Linked DNA regions of Homo sapiens: region 2 is linked to region 1. Evidence: fine-mapped QTL for protein levels in blood plasma. Region 1 holds a variant in brackets. A gene starts in the other region. All regions are shown on their reverse strands.

The links. PIP is the chance, under the fine-mapping model, that this variant and not a neighbour inherited with it causes the effect. The UK Biobank Pharma Proteomics Project read protein levels with antibody pairs (Olink). The fine-mapping took linkage between variants from a reference panel, not from the people measured, so its PIPs are less certain.
Region 2: CPM starts here. The variant in region 1 is fine-mapped to the plasma level of the CPM protein (UK Biobank, PIP above 0.99).

Annotation. Positions count from the first base shown.
Region 1 is chr19:44,924,224-44,929,596 of GRCh38, reverse strand. It overlaps the pseudogene APOC1P1. Among named protein-coding and RNA genes, the nearest start is that of APOC1, 12 kb to the right of the region's middle. RefSeq lists an enhancer at 1,363-2,255. The variant G/C (reference allele first, on the strand shown) is at 2,574.
Region 2 is chr12:68,930,239-68,935,611 of GRCh38, reverse strand. It overlaps CPM (carboxypeptidase M), which reads left to right and starts at 2,441. Exons shown (of 9, transcript NM_198320.5): 1 at 2,441-2,470; 2 at 2,772-2,934. The coding sequence starts at 2,775. RefSeq lists silencers at 2,062-2,171, 2,202-2,561.

The sequences.
Region 1 (5,373 bases):
TCGGCATATTCTTCACTGTTTTATTCCCCACATTGAAACAGTTTCTAGCACTTAGCAGATGCTCAATAAATATGTGTTGAGGAACGAATGACTCTCTAACTTGCCAAAGGGAGCAAGTGTGGATTTGAAGATGTACTGAGCATTTACAATGTGCCAGACACCCTATAGGCCTTCTGCTTTACTTCCCCACAGAACCACCATTTCACAGGAAAGGAAACTGAGGCTCACAGTAATGCCTCTCTCTTAAGATCACACAGGGAGTAAGGGGCTCTATGCCAGCCTGGGGACTCAGGTCCCACCAAGCTTGTGTCCTTCATTACCCCACAAGACCATCTTTTTTTTTTTCAATTTTTTTTTTTTTTTTTGAGACGTGGATTCGCTCTTATTGCCCAGGCTGGAGTGCAATGGCATTATCTCAGCTCACTGCAACCTCCGCCTCCCAGGTTCAAGTGATTCTCCTGCCTCAGCCTCCCAAGTAGCTGGGAATAGAGGCATGCACCACCATGCCTGACTAATTTTGTATTTTTAATAGAGACGGAGTTTCTCCATGTTGGTCAGGCTGGTCTCAAACTCCCAACCTCAGGTGATCTGCCCAACTTGGCCTCGAACCCCCGATCTCAGGTAATCTGCCCGACTCAGCCTCCCAAAGTGCTGGGATTACAGGCATGAGCTATCGCACCGGGGCTGGCTTGTATGCTTTTTGTTTTGTTTTGTTTTGTTTTGTTTTTTAAATAGAGACAGGATCACCGGGCATGGTGGCTCACACCTGTAATCCCAGCACTTTGGGAGGCTGAGGCGGGTGGATCACAAGGTCAGGAGTTCAAGACCAGCTTGGCCAAGATGGTGAAACCCCATCTCTACTAAAAATACAAAAAAATTAGCCGGGCGTGGTGGTGGGCGCCTGTAATCCTAGCTACTCAGGAGACTGAGGCAGAGAATTGCTTGAACTGGGGAGGCAGAGGTTGCAGTGAGCCGAGATGGCGCCACTGCACTCCAGCCTGGGCAACAGAGCGAGACTCTGTCTCAAAAAAAAAAAAAAAAAAATAGAGACAGGATCTCGCCATGTTAGCCAGGCTGGTCTCAAACTCCTAGGCTCCAGCAATCCTCCCACAGTGCTGGGATTACAGGTGTGAGCCACCGTACCTAAGCAAAACCATCTTTTTTTTTTTTCTTTTGTGACGGAATGTTGCTTTGTTGCCCAGGCTGGAGTGCAGTGGTGCAATCTTGGCTCACTGTAACCCCCACCTTACTGGTGCAAGCAATTCCCCTGCCTCAGCCTCCCGAGTAGCTGGGATTACAGGTGCACACCCCCATGTCAGGCTAATTTTTTGTACTTTTAGTAGAGACAGGGTTTCACCATGTTGGCCAGGCTGGTCTTGAACTCCTGATCTCAGGCAATCCGCCCGCCTAGGCCTCCCAAAGTGTTAGGATTATAGGTGTGAGCCACGGCGCCCAGCCCAAGACCATCTTTTAAAATGTGGCCTGGATGGGAGTCCGGGAAACTGTCCCTGACGTCTGAGATCCTTGAGATCTAGCTGTGTGACCAGAAGGATGCTGTCAGCCTCTCTGGGACTTGTTTTTTTTTTCAATCTGTTCATCTTGGACATCCTCCAGGGCTCCACACAAACACACCCCAGCCCTCCCGTGCCCTGGGAAGGGTTCTAACCACATCTTGGCAGGAAGTTCACTCTGTGTGATGCGGTTGATGAATTCCCGAGTGTAGTCCTCCAGGGTCTTTCCTAACTCCTCCAGGCCATCAAAGGGGTTGGAGACTTCTGGAGCCCCCTAGGCTGGGGCTGGGCCTGCCAGGAAGATGAGGCAGGGGTGCAAAATTTGGTTGTTGTTGTTGTTGTTGTTGTAGTTTTGAGACGGAGACTTGCTGTGTCAAATGGTGCGATCTCGGCTTACTGCAACCTCCGCCTCCTAGGTTCAAGCAGTTCTCCTGTCTCAGCCTCCCAAGTAGCCAAGCGCGCACCACAACGCCTGGCTGTTTTGTATTTTTAGTAGAGATGGGGTTTCACCATGTAGGCCAGGCTGGTTTCGAACTCCTGACCTCAAGTGATCTGCCCGCCTCGGCCTCCCAAAGTGCTGGGATTACAGGCATTAGCCGCCACGCCCCACCAAAAATTTGTTATTGGAACCCCCTTGGGGTGGGATCCCGGGGATAGATAAGGAGATCCTTGGGGATCATGTGGTTAGAATGGGGAGGATACTGAAGTGACCGCGTGGGGCTCAAGCCGCTGGGAATTGCCTTACTCAGCACTGACCTCCTCCCACAGCCCATCGCCCCATCACCCACTTTCAAGGCTATAAAAGGAGGACAGCCAATCCCAGAGGTGTGGAGATCCATACGTCATCGGTTACTAGGGCTCTCCTGGGCAGATTTGGCGCCTGCCGGACTGAGCCTGGGCGAACCTGGAGACCCACTCGACCACAATGGGGCAACCACGACCAAGAAGGGGCCCCAGAGCTCTCAGAGGTCCTCTAAGCCGGGACCCCAGGCCTGTAGCCACCTTCACTCTTCCAAATCTCCAACTCCGCAATTCTCCCATCCCACTTTTACCTTCCAAGAC[G/C]ATCGACAGAACCACCACCAGGACCGGGAGCGACAGGAAGAGCCTCATGGCGAGGCCGGAGGGGCACCCTGGAGGCGGAGGCAGGGGTTCAGGGGATCAGTGGCACCCTCCTCCCTCCCTCCCACGATCCCCTCATCTCCCTTTATGAGTTCTTGCAGAGTGGAGGCGGGTGTCCCTCCCAAGCACTCAACAACCTGAATCCTTGCTGGAGGGCTTGGTTGGGAGGTCCTGTCCTGCCCGCAGGACCTTTATCAGGCTGGGGAGGGGGCGGGGCAGGTTGATGTTGATCTCCCTCCTCCTGAGCCTTCCCCTGGAAGATTGCCTCCTTCTGCCCACCCAGGTTTTTCTCCTCTGCCCCTGGCCCGTGGGCGTTGGGGTCAGGTGGGGTCCTGACCATTTCCCTTAGCTCCGAAGCCCTTTACCATTCAGCACCCTCACCTCCCAATCTCCCTGACTCTGGGGGGTCCTCAGACTACCATAGCTCCTTTCCCCACTCAGAGGACAGCCTCGTCCTGTCCCTGTGGCCATCTTCCCTCAGGGGTCTCCCAGTAATAACCCTGTGATCTCATCCCCCCCTCATTCACACCGTGTCCCTAGATCACCTCTTTCCCTCACTTCCCCTCTCTCAGCAAGCCTCCTCAGCCCCAACAACTTTTCCTTTATGTTGCTGGGGCCTCCCAGTTGGCCCCGCAACCCTGCCCTGCGTGCCACCTCCAATTTCTTTCAGACCAGCCCTTGAAACATCCCAGACCACCCTGATATTCTCTGGGCTCTTAACTTGATGATTTTCAGTCTCCCTTTTTTGCAAAGGGAAGGGGTCGCCTTAGCTGGACACTAAAAACCTCACCTGCATTGGCCAGGCATGGTGGCTCATGCCTGTAATCCCAGCGCTTTGGGAAGCTGAGGAAGGAGGATCACTTGAGCCCAGGAGTTAAGAGACCAGCCTGGGCAATATAGGGAGACCTCATCTCTACAAAAAAGTTCAAAAATTAGCTGAGCGTGGTGGCGCACACCTGTAGTCCCAGCTATTCAAGAGGCTGAGGTAGGAAGATTGCTTGAGCCCAGGAGTTCGAGGCTGCAGTGAGCTGTGATTGCGCCACTGCACTCCAGCCTGGTGAGACAGAGTGAGACCCCATCTCAAAAAATTAAAACCTTCAGCTGCAAAGCTCTGAGTGTATGCCCCTTCTTCCCTTCCACCGGGCCTCACCCCCTTTGGCTGGCTACCTCCCCCAAACACTCTATCTGCTCTTATTCACCCTCTGATGCCCCTCCTGGCACCAAGCCTGCTTCCCACCATCACCACATCCGTCCCCCAGGGCTGGAGTCCAATTCCTTCCCCACCAGCTGCCTTTGACCGCCAGTGACCCTGGCAGCTGATGGGGAGGGTGTCCTCAGCCCAGCCTCAGACTCTAGTTCGGCTGGCCTTGTGCCCCCACAACCACGTGTCAGCCTGGCGGTAGGGGGATGGTTGTGAAAGGGACAGCATAGACAAGACCCTGGCAGGATTGCAACATCCCTCTGGCCAGCTCAGAGCTTCCAGTCCCTGTAAGCCCCAGGGGCCCCCCTACTTCCTCAACTGAGCCCAGCATTCCCCAAACATCCACCCAGATGTCTGCTTCCCCGATCCCACAAGAATAGAATAACAATGCTCCTGATTTTCCAACCTCATCCTCCCCTCTGCTATAGGGGTTTCTGTTTAATAGATGGGGAAACTGTCACACAACCAAGAACATCCAGTAGGGCTCAGTGAGGGGCAAAGAGGGGGCTACTGACTGGGCGCAGTGGCTCACACCTATAATCCCACCACTTTGGGAAGCTGAGGCAGGAGGATCTGCTTGAGCCCAGGAGTTTGACACCAGCCTGGGCAACACAGTAAGACCCTATCTCTAGAAAAAAATTAAAAATTTGGCCAGGTGCGGTGGCCCACGCCTGTAATCTGTGCACTTTGGGAGGCCTAGGTGGGTGGATCATTTGAGGTCAGGAGTTCTAGACCAGCCTGACCAACATGGTGAAACCCCGTCCCTGTCAAAAATAGAAAAAATTAGCCGGGTGTGGTGGCACAGGCCTGTAATCCCAGTTACTTGGGAGGCTGAGGCTGACCAACATGGAGAAACCCGTCTCTACTAAAAATAGAAAATTAGCCAGGTGTGGTGGCACATGCTTGTAATCCCAGCTACTTGGGAGGCTGAGGCAGGGGAAGGTTGTGGTGAGATGAGATTGTGTCACTGCACTCCAGCCTGGGCGACAGAGCAAACCTCCATCTCAAAAAACAAAACAAAACAAAACAAAAAAACCAAATGTTTATTTGCCACAAAAACCCTATCAGATGGGCGTCTTTATCATTTCCATTGTACAGATGGGGAAACAGGCTTCGGGGTCGGGGCATAGCCACTTACTGACGACTCCCCACCCAGCAAGTGGTTTTGAACCCGGACCCTCTCACACTACCTAAACCACGCCAGGACAACCTCTGCTCCTCTCCACCGAAATTCCAAGGGGTCGAGTGGATGTTGGAGGTGGCATGGGCCCAGAGAGGTCTCTGACCTCTGCCCCAGCTCCAAGGTCAGCAGGCAGGGAGGGCTGTGTGTTTGCTGTTTGCTGCTTGCAATGTTTGCCCATTTTAGGGACATGAGTAGGCTGAAGTTTGTTCAGTGTGGACTTCAGAGGCAGCACACAAACAGCTGCTGGAGGATGGGAACTGAGGGGTTGGAAGGGGGCAGGGTGAGCCCAGAAACTCCTGTGTGCCTCTGAGCCTGCAGCTCTGTTCTCTAAGTCACCAAGCCCCCAAACCACTCTCATC
Region 2 (5,373 bases), not on the chromosome of region 1:
TACTAAGACTTCCAACTCTTAGGCCAGGCAAGGTGGCTCACTCATGTAATCCCAGCACTTTGGGAGGCTGAGGCAGAAGGATCACTTGAGGCCAGGAGTTCAAGACTAGCCTGGCCAACATGGTGAAACCTGGTCTCTATTAAAAATGCAGAAGTTAGGCATGTGTGGTGTAAAAATACAAAAGTTACGTAGGTGTGGCGATGCGTGCCTGTAATCCCAGGTACGTTAGAGGCTGAAACACAAGAATCGCTTGAACCTGGAAGGCAGAGGCTGCAGTGAGCTGAGATTGCACCACTGCACTCAAGCCTGGGCAACAGAGTGAGACTGTATCTCAAAACAAACAAACAAACAAACAAACAAACAAACAATAAAACAACTTCTCTTTAAGAAAAAAAAAAAGATGGCCAGGCACGGTGGCTCACGCCTGTAATCCCAGCGATCTGGGAGGCCGAGGCAGGCAGATCGCCCGAGGTCGGGAGTTCCAGACCAGCCTGGCCAACATGGTGAAACCCCGTCTCTACTAAAAATACAAAAATTAGCCGGGCCTGGTGGCAGGTGCCTGTAATCCGAGCTACTCGGTAGGCTGAGGCAGGAGAATTGCTTGAACCTGAGAGGAGGTTGCAGTGAGCCGAGATCATGCCATTGCACTCCAGACTGGGCAACAGAATTGAGACTCCATCTCAAAAAATAAAGAAAGAAATAAAAAATTAAAAAAAAAATTCCAACTCTTGGAAAATTCCCTTTAAAGAGTTACGAATTAAGCTGGTTTATTTATGTAATAAACGCTTCGCACAGTTCTTACAATGTGCCTGCCAACCTTATTTAGGTAGGTACAATTAAGACTTCCACTTTACACACCAGAAAATAAGGCACAGAGTCGACACAGCCACTGAGTGTCAGAGCAAGAATTGGCACTCATCCCGTGAGCGCCTCAGTTCTTTTTTTTTCTTTATATATACTTTAAGTTCTAGGGCACATGTGCACAACTGTGGCACATATACACCACGGAATACTATGCAGCCATAAAAAAGGATGAGTTCATGTCCTTTGTACGGACATGGATGAAGCTGGAAACCATCATTCTCAGCAAACTATCGCAAGGGCAGAGCGCCTCAGTTCTTAAACCACTCTTCTATGCTGCGGCAGAATCACTGGAAGTCTCAGGGAGTCCTGAGTGCGCAATTCTAGGAAAAGTATCTATATCTGTAAGAAAGAAGGGGCAGGGAATCTAACGGTTCTCAGCTCTTGAAGGCACATTAGATTCATTCAAGGTCCTCTCTAAAAATACACTTTCTTGGGCCTCCACGAGAAAAATTCTATTCAATTAGTCGTGGGCTTGCATCCGTATTTTTAGTCTGTAAAAGTGGAATGTTATCTCAAATCAGTGGTTTTCAAACTTTTTATATTCTGCGGACCTTGACACGGGCCCCCAATACCCTGACACGGTTACTTACAATCCGGGAGAGAGTGGGAGAAAGGGGGAGAGAGGGAAGGGGAGAGGGGGAGGGGAGAGAGAGAGAATGAATGAGAATGAATCTTTTAGAGAGGTAGAGGGGGTTGGCCCGTGCCACAAACCACCTCTCAGGTTTGAGTGAAGCCTTCGTTCTCTCTCGTGCAGAGACCATGCCATCCTTCCAGAAAGGAGCATTTTAGGACGTTTTAGGACGAGAGACCTGTAATTGGCCTAAGACTCAGGTGCAGGTGGAGGAAGCATCGGATTTACAACAGTGGTCCTGCCTTCTTCGATGTGACTTCCAGTTTTAAATTCAATTCTAATTTACACAAATCCCACCCACTATGTAAACTTGTTGGAAAATGTCCTGCACTCTGCACTTCGTGGCATTTAAAACTTCCACACACGCGCGCGTTCTTTCTCGAAGCCCCGTGATTGCTTAGCCTCGCTGGGCAGCTTGGCACTGCTGGGAGCTTGGCTCGCCCTGCCGGGGCCGACGCCGCCCGTCCCGCAGGAGCCCGCGCGGGGCTCAGGGCACTCAGGACTCCGCATGCGTCCCGGCTCCAGGTGGGCCCCGGCACCGCCAACCGCAGGAAACCCGCCGAGCCCTAAACGTCTCCCAAGCGGCTGCAGTCTGCGACAGAGAGTGTCCCTCGGTGGAGCGCCCTGTGGCTGCCCAGGCTACAGCCGTGGCCGAGGCGAGGACACACTTCTGACCTGGGGCTCCAGCAAAGACTGTCCGCGAGCGGCGACTCCATGCCCGCAGCCCTCCGCCCAGCTCAGCCGCCCGGCCGCGGGCACCAGCAGCCGCGCCACGAAAGGGCGCACCGCGCGGGCGCCGTCTCTCCTAGGTGCGAAGGCGGCTGAGGCCCCGCCCGGGAGGCACCCGCGCGGCTCCGGAGTGGGCCGGAGGGACGTCCGGGGGCGGGGCCCGGGCGCGCCCGCCCTCTGACCGGGCTATAACACCCGGCCCCGCCGGGCGGCCGCGGGTGGGTAGAGGTGCGCGCCTGGGACCTGGTGAGGCTGGGGGTGCGCGGGGCCGGGCGCAGCTGTGGCAGCTGCCGGACGGCGGAGGCGCCAGGAGGAGGAGGAGAGGGAGGCGCGGGCGGCTGGGTCGAGGGCACCGAGGCTGCCCGTGCTCCCGGTCTCTGGTTGCACGGCTCACTCCCGAAGGTGTTGCTTCCAGCTTTTGCCTCCTTAGGAGGCAGGGAGCGTCAGTGTCGGGAGACCCTGAGACCGGAGTACCGAGACGTAGCTGGTGATGCCCCCGCCTGCCCTCATGTGTTCTCAGGTTCTTCTTATTTTTATTCATCTCTAGAACATGGACTTCCCGTGCCTCTGGCTAGGGCTGTTGCTGCCTTTGGTAGCTGCGCTGGATTTCAACTACCACCGCCAGGAAGGGATGGAAGCGTTTTTGAAGACTGTTGCCCAAAACTACAGTTCTGTCACTCACTTACACAGTATTGGGAAATCTGTGAAAGGTAGGGTCCGTCTCGTGAACACTTTGCCAAACCCTCAGTCCTCCCTTTCAGTATTCATTAAATATGCCCCAGCTTCCTGTCTGCTCTTCCACGCACCTACTCTGAGTGGCACAGAACAAGTCAACCGGTACCGTGCGTGTTGGTTGTTTTCTGCTTTTGTTGGGAGGAATAGTAGGAAGAACTGAATTTTACTGGACTTGTCCATTGTAATTCAGTGTCACTGAGTCCTTTCCATTATTGGAGTTCTTCTGTCTTTTTGGATCTTGCAGACATTGGTTATTTGGGATGTATGTTTTAGTTCCTTTTCAAGATAAACTCCCAAGTAAGTCCGTTTATCCGTTTCAGTTCCCCTTTGTGTGGGCTTCTTTATATATGACTTGGACTGTTAATGTCATTTCTTCATGTCTCTTTTAAACTGAAATAATGCAGTTTTGTTGGTAAGATTTCTGTGTCATCTGTAGTTAGCCTTTTATTTAAAGTTATGCAAAACTATCATTTCTGCAAGTTTCTTTTAATCTAAGTAGTACAGTTCTGTTGGTTAGATTTGTGTCGTGTATAATTAGCCCTATGGCTTAAAGTTATGCAAAAAAGTGGTTCTATGATTAAAGGCTGTTTTTAAAATGTATCCATTTGAAGAAGACAATGCTAGATAATGAATATATATTAGTAGTGATTGAAACTCTTCCCAGCATTTTCATATTTATCATTAATAATTTATTGTTCTAAGTTAGAAACTACATAAAGTTATTTTCATTTTTATAGACAGCAAGTTTGAATCAGATAAATTAAATAATTTGTTCAAGGTCTCCCAGATGGTGAATTTTATAGCCAGGACTGGCACCCATCCGGCCAAGGCAAATAATTTGATCAGATATCGTTATTTCATCTTTCTTTCTTTCTTTCTTTCTTTCTTTTTTTTTTTTTTTTTTTTTTGGTCAGAGTCTCGCTCTGTTGCCCAGGCTGGAGTGCAGTGGCGTGATCTCGGCTCACTGCAACCTCCGGCTTCCTGAGTTCAAGCAATTCTCCTGCCTCAGTCTCCCGAGTAGCTGGGATTACAGGAATGCGCCACCACAGCTGGCTAATTTTTTTGTATTTTTAGTAGAGATGGGGTTTCACCATATTGGCCAGGCTGGTCTCAAACTCCTGACCTTGTGATCCTCCTGCTTCGGCCTCCCAAAGTGCTAGGATTACAGGTATGAGCCACCGTGCCCGGCCGAGATACCATTATTACTTAATCATCTTTTATTATCCTGATGTTCCCAAAGAGGTTACCAGAAAACTTAGTCCTTAAATCAAAAGTTTCATAAATTTTATGCAATTTGGATCTCAACTTTTTGTAAGGTGTGTTCAAACTCTACCTTGATTTTAGCTCTGAACTTTTGAGTCAATTGAGAGTCTCATAATTACCATATTCTTCATCATTTTTCAAAAAAATCAAGGCTATGGCTTCTATATTAAAGAAAAAGTATTATATAAATGTATTTATGTGCAATGCGAAGTCAATATCCTGGGCTGTGTGTAATAGTAACTTTGTTTTTAAACAGCATTGCCAAAGAGATGGTGCCAGAATTACTCTATATTGCTCTATAATCCAAAATTATAGAGGTTGGGTGTGTGAGAAATCATATCTTGAATCAGCATACGTATTCAGCCTTCTGAAATCATTTTTCCCTAGGGCTAGAGTAGAGCAATTTAAAAAGATCTAGGAATACTAATTATATTAATTAAAAATATATAGAACACAACTAGCTTGAGTTATTGTTCAGTCATCATTTCAACCACAAGATGATGAGGATGTTGTTAATTTTAAGTACTAAGTGATTTGGTAAGGTTTTGTATTTTCAAACACAATGTGCTTGTGACAGTTGGGGGCTCTCTTTCCTAATATGAATCAGCAGTTGTGATCTATCCTGCATGATATCAAACCACAATCACAGTGAAAGTCAGCAGGCTTAATTTTGTTTTTAATTTTACCTTGTATGCACTCTTGCGGTTAAAGGCTTGAGGAGTTATCATGTAAAAATAAAATCTGACACTAGTGGTTAAATATTTGTGTTGAATATGTTGTTCTGAATAATAACTCGGATTAAGAAAAATCCCAAATCTGCCATTTGGCTCCAACTGGTAGATGAAACTGTATGCCAGTAACTGGGAGTCAGTTGCCAAAGTGTCACTGCACATTAGTGTGACAATTGAGAGATGGTGCTCCTTTGTTGGTGGTCTTTTTCACTAGATATTTTCCCTAACCATTCTGCCCTCTGATGTAAGATAAGTTTGCTTAGAAAACAGAATTTATGACCAGGCCCAGTGACTCATGCCTGTAATCCCAGCACCTTGGGAGGCCGAGGCGGGAGGATCACCTGAGGTCAGGAATTTGAGACCAGCCTGGCCAACATGGTGAAACGTTGTCTCTACTAAAAATACAAAAAATTAACCAGA